2 linked regions of the Homo sapiens genome follow. The protein of the gene in region 1 interacts with the protein of each later gene in a biochemical or structural test. Each region holds a gene or a part of one and is shown in the gene's direction. Other genes may lie near its edges. The genes, in order: REPS2 and EPS15.

What was found.
Region 2: the proteins of REPS2 (region 1) and EPS15 interact in far-western blotting, tested with the Homo sapiens proteins (one study listed by BioGRID).

The regions. Positions count from the first base shown.
Region 1 is NC_000023.11:16,949,583-16,953,410, forward strand, and holds part of REPS2 (ralBP1-associated Eps domain-containing protein 2), read left to right. Parts: intron 1-3,828. UniProt on the Homo sapiens protein: Involved in ligand-dependent receptor mediated endocytosis of the EGF and insulin receptors as part of the Ral signaling pathway. By controlling growth factor receptors endocytosis may regulate cell survival.
Region 2 is NC_000001.11:51,355,177-51,359,004, reverse strand, and holds part of EPS15 (epidermal growth factor receptor substrate 15), read left to right. Parts: intron 1-2,158; coding exon 2,159-2,305; 3' UTR 2,306-3,828. UniProt on the Homo sapiens protein: Involved in cell growth regulation. May be involved in the regulation of mitogenic signals and control of cell proliferation. Involved in the internalization of ligand-inducible receptors of the receptor tyrosine kinase (RTK) type, in particular EGFR.

The DNA.
Region 1 (3,828 bases):
TTTTTAGTAGAGACGGCGTTTTGCCATGTTGGCCAGGCTGGTCTCGAACTCCTGACTTCAGGTGATCCACCCGCCTCAGCCTCCCAAAGTGCTGGGATTACAGGCGTGAGCCACCATGCCTGGCCTTAACATATTTTTTAATAGACTATTTTTTTTTTTCAGAGCAGTTTTAGGTTCACAGCAAAATTTAGCAGAGTACCCATATATCCCCTGCCCCGACACACCCGTAGCTTTCCTTACTCTCAACGTCCCACATCAGAATAATAGAGTTTTTACAATTGATGAACCTACATTGACACCTCATTATTCCCCAAAGTCTATATATTAGGGCTCACTCTTGGTGTTGTACATTCTGTGGGTTTGGACAAATGTATAATGACGGTTCCACCATTGTAGTATCATACAGAATAGTTTCACTGCTCTAAAAATCTGTGCTCTATTGATTCATCCCTCCCTCTCCACTAACATGTGGCAATCACTGATTTTTTTTTTTTTTTTACTGTCCCCATAGTTTTGCCTTTTTTAGAATGTCATATAGTTGGAGTCATACAGTATATAGGCTTTTCACTTTGGCTTCTTTCATGTAGTACTATGCACTTAAAATTCCTTCATGTCTTTTTATGGTTTGGTGGCTCATTTCTTTATAGTGCTGAATAATATTCCATTGTCTGCATGTACTACAATTTATTTATTCACCTACTGAAGGATATCTTGGTTGCTTCCAAGTTTGGGCAATTATGGATAAAGCTGTTATAAACATCTGTATGCAGCCTTTTTTGTTACATGCAGGAGATAAGCTTTTGACTCATTTGGGTAAATAGCAAGGGGCATGATTGCTAGATTGTATGGTGAGAGTATATTTAGTTTTATAAGAAACTGCCAAACTGCTTTCCAAAGTGATTGTACCATTTTGCGTTCCCATCAGCAATGCATTGGTTTCTTTACAGAGTATTTATTTTCCTTTGCTGACTTATTTTAACAGCAGGATTCTAGCACTAGGTGGAAAACGTATATGAGTTTCTGATGTGTGTCAGGTACTGTCCTAGGTGCTGAGGTTATAATAGTGAATCCAACACAATCTCTGTCTTCATGGAGCTTATGTTCTCATGTGAATGTTTTTACACTTCAGAGTTTTTATTTGGTTGAGAAAAGACTTGAAATATAACATCCAAAAATAAAATGTCAGCCTGGTGCTGTGGCGCACGCCTGTAGTCCCAGTGCTTTGGGAGACCAAGGATGGGAGGATTGCTTGAGGCCAGGACTTTGAGATCAGCCTGGGTAACATAGTGAGACCCTGTCTCTACACAAAATAAAATAGCCGGGCATGGTGGCATGCGCTTGTAGTCCTAGCTACTCTGGAGGCTGAGGCAGGAGAATTGCTTGAGCCCAGGAGTTCAAGGTTATAGTGAACTATGATCGCACCATTGCTCTCCAGCGTAGGCAACAGAGCAAAACCCTGTATCAAAATAAAGTAAAATAAGCCTGTCAAACCCAAACCAAATACATGTCAAACCCAGACCTGATTCTTACCACACACTATGCCTTCTAGTAAAATTCTGGCCTTTGAATACCAACAAAATACTTCATAACCTGGGAAACCAACTACTCTAACGTTTGTTGCTCTGTCTTGAAATACTAAACAAAACCATTTACCTGTTCGTAGACATATTTTCTTTTTCTAGTTTAAAAGTATCCCATTCTGCCATTTTCCACCTAGTGCTAGAATCCTGCTCTTAAAATAAGTCAGCACAGGGAAATAAATACTCTATAAAGAGACCAAAAGACCTTTCAAAATAGGCTATGGCCAGGCCCAGTGGCTCACGCCTATAAATCCCAGCACTTTGGGAGTCTGAGGTCGGAGGATTACTTGAGCCCAGGAGTTCTAGACTAGCCTGGGCAAGATGGCAAAACCCCATCTACACACACACACACACACACACACACACACACACACACACACACACACACACACACACACCCCCGCTACCTACCTCTCTCTGGGGCATGCCTGTAGTCCCAGCTATTCTGGAGGCTGAGGTGGGAGGATCCCTTGAGCCCAGGAGTTTGAGGCTGCAATGAGCCATTATGACACCACTGCACTCCAGCCTGGGTGAAAGAGCCAGACCCTGTCTCATAAAATAAATAAGTAAATAAATAAAATATCTACCTTAAAGCAGCAAGTTTTGTATTTGATGTAATGAATTAACAGACCGCTTTATAATATCTATCTTTTAGGATAGTGTCAGTCTCTTGGAATGCTGTGCATGAGTCATCATTAAAATTGGTTTTCATTAAAAAAATTTTTTTAACATATACACATCTTATTGGAGTTTTCTTTTAAAATTCAAAAATGGGAACATTATTTTTTCAAAGCCAAGTAACAGAAGAGTATATAAAAAAGTCAATTTTGTGCATATCTTTTTACATTTTCTATGCTCATGTAAAACATACATGACTTATGTAATTATACACATATGCTCCAGATCTCATCTGTATTAATTTTTTAAATTATACTTTAGTTCTGGGATACACTTGGAGAACGTGCAGTTTTGTTACATAGGTATATATATGTGCCATGGTGATTTGCTGCACCCATCAACCCATCATCTACATTAGGTATTTCTCCTAATGCTATCTCTCCCCTAGCCCTGCACCCCTGAATAGGCCCCGGTGTGTGATGTTTCCCTCCCTGTGTCCATGTTTTCTCATTGTTCAGCTCCCACTTATGAGTGAGAACATGCGGTGTTTGGTTTTCTGTTCCTGTGTTAGTTTGCTGAGAATGATGGTTTCCGGCTTCATCCATGTTGGTTTTCATTTTTGTGATAGTTAATTCTTGGACATTAAGGGGAATAATTATAAAACACTGTTGCTTCCATATCAAGGGAAATCACTGAATGATTAAAAAAAACCCAATAAGTGTTGTCTGATTGTTTAAACAGCTTTCATTGAGGTAAATAAGTAAAACAAAGCTGTGAGAAGTAGGGAATATTTAAACAATTTGTGCGCATGCCCTCACCTTTGGGGAGAAGTCTTTTCTGAAGGCTCTCTTCTGATTTTTTGAAGCAACTGTTTAATCATTAAAGAAAATTATAGGTAAAAGACAAATTCTTGTGAACTTTCGCTCATTGCTAGATTATTAGGCAGAACTATTTTTTAAAAATTTAAATGAAACAACTTTATATTTTTACATCTTTAGATCATATCATTTTGTAACTATACTTTAGGGAAATAGAGGCCAGCATATTAAAACAGTAACTAGGGGCTGGGCAGGGTGGCTCATTGCCTGTAATCCTAGCACTTTGGGAGGCCGAGGCGGGCAGATCAGCTGAGGTCAGGAGTTTGAAACCAGCCTGGCCAACATAGCGAAACCCCATCTCTACTAAAAATACAAAAATTAGCAGGAGAATTGCTTGAACCGGAGAGGCGAAGGTTGCAGTGAGCTGAGATCAGGCCATTGCACTCCAGCCTGGGAGACAAGAGTGAAACTCTGTCTCAAAAACAAACAAACCAAAAAACAAACACACACACACACACACACACACACACACACACACACACACACAAACACACAAACCAGTAACTAGGACTAACTATATGCTGTTTTAGATTGACAGTATTCTTTTTTTCTAAAAGAGAATGAATGCCAGCAGATGTAGGAAGTACCAGAGCTAAACCATTGCCTGGTTAAAAGGAGTACCTCTGCATAATAGTTACTTGTTGACTCTTTTGTAATAAAATATTTCAGGCATGTAAAACTAGACAGTTACCCAAGAAATAACTGTGTATCCACCACTCCGTATAAGTAAAACAGCCCAGCTAGAGTGAAAG
Region 2 (3,828 bases), on another chromosome or scaffold:
GGGCCAGACGGGGTGGCTCACACCTGTAATCCCAGCACTTTGGAAGGCCGAAGCGGGCGGATCACTTGAGGTCAGGAGTGTGAGACCAGCCTGGCCAACATGGTGAAACCCCGTCTCTACTAAAAATACAAAAATTAGCCAGGCATGGTGGCGCATGCCTGTAATCCCAGCTAGGGAGGCTGAGGTGGGAGGATCACTTAAGCCCCAGAGGCAGAGGTTGCGGGAGCTGATATAGTGCCACTGTCCTCAAGCTGAGTTACAGAGCGAGACTCCGCCTCAAAAAAAAAAAAAAAAACAAAAAAAAACAAATCTGGTTGGAAGGAGTCTTGAACAACAGCTGAGGCATTTTGCTCCAAAATCTCAATATAGTATAATAAAAAACAGCTTATAATAAGAACATCTTCTTTTTTCATTGTGAAAGATGTGGTTAAGCATTACACGTTTCAAAGTTTTGCTTAATTCCCTAGGGAAAAAAACTACCATTTCAAAAGCCTGACAGTGTATTTTATTTCATCCTTTCATGAAGGATTTTCTATGTAACAAGACTTGAAACCAATTAGAATTTTTAATTTAGTATTTGCCAAGGTTGCTGTTTGGGGTAGATAAAAATATTTCCCCAACATAATAATTATGAGTGTTAAGATTTTATTTAGACTGGTCTAAAAGTTCCCAAAGCCTGGAGAAATCTTCATAATGCTTTTTGTTTTATTTTTATTTTTTTTGGCTCACTCCGTCGATCTGGCTGGAGAGCGGTGGTATGATCACAGCTCACTGCAGCCTCAACTTCCCAGGCTCAGGTGATCCTCCCAGGTAGCTGGAACTACAGATGTGCACCACCACACCTGGCTAATTTTTTTTGTAAAAACAGAGTTTTGCCATGTTGCCAAGATGAACTTCTTGAACTTCTGAGCTCAAGCAATTGGCCCACACCCACAGAACTAGGATTACAGATGTCAGCCACCATGCCTGGCTCAAAATGCTTTTTATAAAATATGATTAGGTTCTTGGGAGGCCGAGATGGGCGGATCACCTGAGGTCAGGAGTTCGAGATCAGCCTAACCAACATGAAGAAACCCTATCTCTACTAAAAATACAGGATTAGCCGGGCGTGGTGGTGCATGCTTGTAATTCCAGCTACTCGGGAGGCTGAGGCAAGAGAATCGCTTGAACCCGGGAGGCGGAGGTTGTGGTGAGCCAAGATTGCTCCATAGCACCCAGCCTGGGCAACAAGAGCGAAAACTCTGTCTCAAAAAAAAAAAAAAAAGATTAGGTTTAAATCACATCTTGCTTAGTATACCCAATACTTTAATATGATGTATAGCAAAATCAGCTTTTTTTTTTTTTTCTTGCTTCTTAGCTTTTTTACACATTAAGGGTTAGGAAACTACCAGTGGGATTAAATTAAAAATGATTTGTTGTGTGAGGGTCTCAGTAAAGTTGAAGTGGTAAATATTTTACATTACATTAGGTCAAAAAGGCTAGCCCTGTCCTGTTTTTAAATCTTCTAATCTACTATAAGCATTTCTACTTTTTTTAGTGAGATATATATATATATATATCACATTTAAAAAAAAAAAATATATATATATATATATATATATATATATATATATTTTTTTTTTTTTTTTCAGATGGAATCTCACTTTGTCACCCAGGCTGGAGTGCAGGGGTGCATTTTCGGCTCACTGCAACCTCTGCCTCCTGGGTTCAAGTGATTCATGTGCCTCACCCTCCCAAGTAGCTGGGATTACAGGCACCACCACCATGCCCAGCTAATTTTTGTATTTTTAGTTGAGAGCGAGTTTTGCCATGTTGGCCAAGCTGGTCTCGAACTCCTGACCTCAGGTGATCCACCTGCCTCAGCCTCCAAAGTGCTGGGATTACAGGCATGAGCCACCACATCTAGCCTAGTGGCATTTTTAACATTTAGTTTTATAGACTTTCTATCTATAGATTGAATTAATTTTTTAAATTAAACTATAGCTTAATAACTGGTTAATATTAAACATGTTTTCAGGGGGAAAAAAAAAAGAATTAACAAGTAACCAGACTATTTCCAGAGTCCTTCAGGTGTCCTTTTGTAAAAACTATTTTTCCTTCTTTTTACTTGCTTTACTCATTTATTTATTCGTTTGTTCATCGATCTTTTAAATGGCAGTATCCCTCTGAAGAAGATATGATCGAATGGGCCAAGAGGGAAAGTGAGAGAGAGGAAGAGCAGAGGCTTGCCCGACTAAATCAGCAGGAACAAGAAGACTTAGAACTGGCTATTGCACTCAGCAAATCTGAGATATCAGAAGCATGAAGAATTCTCTTGTTCTTTGGCAACAATATAGTATTCTTCTTCCTGAATACTGAAACTATTTACAATGTGTATCAAAACTACCTGTGAGCATGGGAATACAAAAGGTTTGAGATTCCTGTAAATGTGACAAAATTTTAGGATTTTTTTTTTTTCTTCATTACAGATTCGTCTTTTTTTTTTTTTCTTATAAAAGCCGTAACCCAGTCAGACAAATTCACCTTCACTTAGGCCCCTGTTCTGGTATACATTTACTGTGAGCTTTTGCCTGCCTGTGCTATTTTACTTGTAAAGCTAGAGCACCCAAGCTTCTGCCTTCTGGAATATAGAGAAATAGTTTCACCCTGCACTACCCTGTTCTGTAGTTATTCTGATGATAGCCAGTGAGGTTCTTAAAGTTTGCAGTATTCTCCCCTGATTGGAATGGTTGAGTGAGGGTAAGGGAAAGAATATCTTATTTCTTTTATGATTGGTGCAAATTGGCTAAAGTGCATTTTTAAATTTCCTCTACTTAATTTGTTTTTCAGAGATAAGGAAAAATATTTTGCACAGATTTACTCCACTATGGAAAAGGGATGCTGTAGGTTGAACCATTATAGCCTCAGATTCGATCTTTTCCTAACTAAAAATATTAAAGCCTCATGTGTGAAATAAATTTTTAAAAAGATTTATCTGGATTTAGAGAATTTTAGATCAACAGATACCTCTCAGTGTGTTTGCTAATTAATAAAAATCAGTTTCTTACAAATAAAGTTTGTAAGAAAATGTTCATTTTAAGTGATAGATAGTGGAGAAAATTTATCACCTAAAATATACCCATCAGTATAAGGCAAGCAAAAGTCTTAACATGGCAGCCATTCTGCCTTTGCCGTGGCCCTGTCCTGTTTAGTTCTTAGTGGGTTAATTTTTGTACTTTTGCAGAAGAAACTTCAGCAAGCTAGAACTGGAAGGTACTTTAATTTTTCATATATATTTGTTTTTTTTTTTTTAATGAAGGCTCATTTACTTGAAATGTAAAAACTTTCACTGAATACAAATAGAAAAAGTGATGTGTTTTATATCATATTGCTTTTTGTCCATCTTTGTGGTTTAGTTTATTTACTCACTTCATGTTTTTCACCTATAAAATTGTCAAGCTAGCAAAAAAACTCTTGTTTTTTTAATTGGGAGAGAAGAGACCTGCCAGATTATCAGACCTCTTCATGTTAAAAGACCATCTCCTGTAAAACTGACCTAGTGGACAAGCTGAATTTGAAATAGACTGTGAAGTAAGCTGTAACTTGTCATTTTAATTTTGTTTAACACGGTTACTGACTTAGATGATGTATTAAATACCAAGATAAAGAAAAATGCACCTAAAATCTAATTAGAATTCTCTGGGTCAACAAGTCAAGGTGGTATTGATCTGTGTTAATCTGAGTAACTTATTGCCTAGCCTATAAATAAATTCCAAAATATCCAATTCATTTCTTCTTGAAATGGTGCTTGTTTTGTTTTCTTTCCATTACACAATTAGACTCCTACAG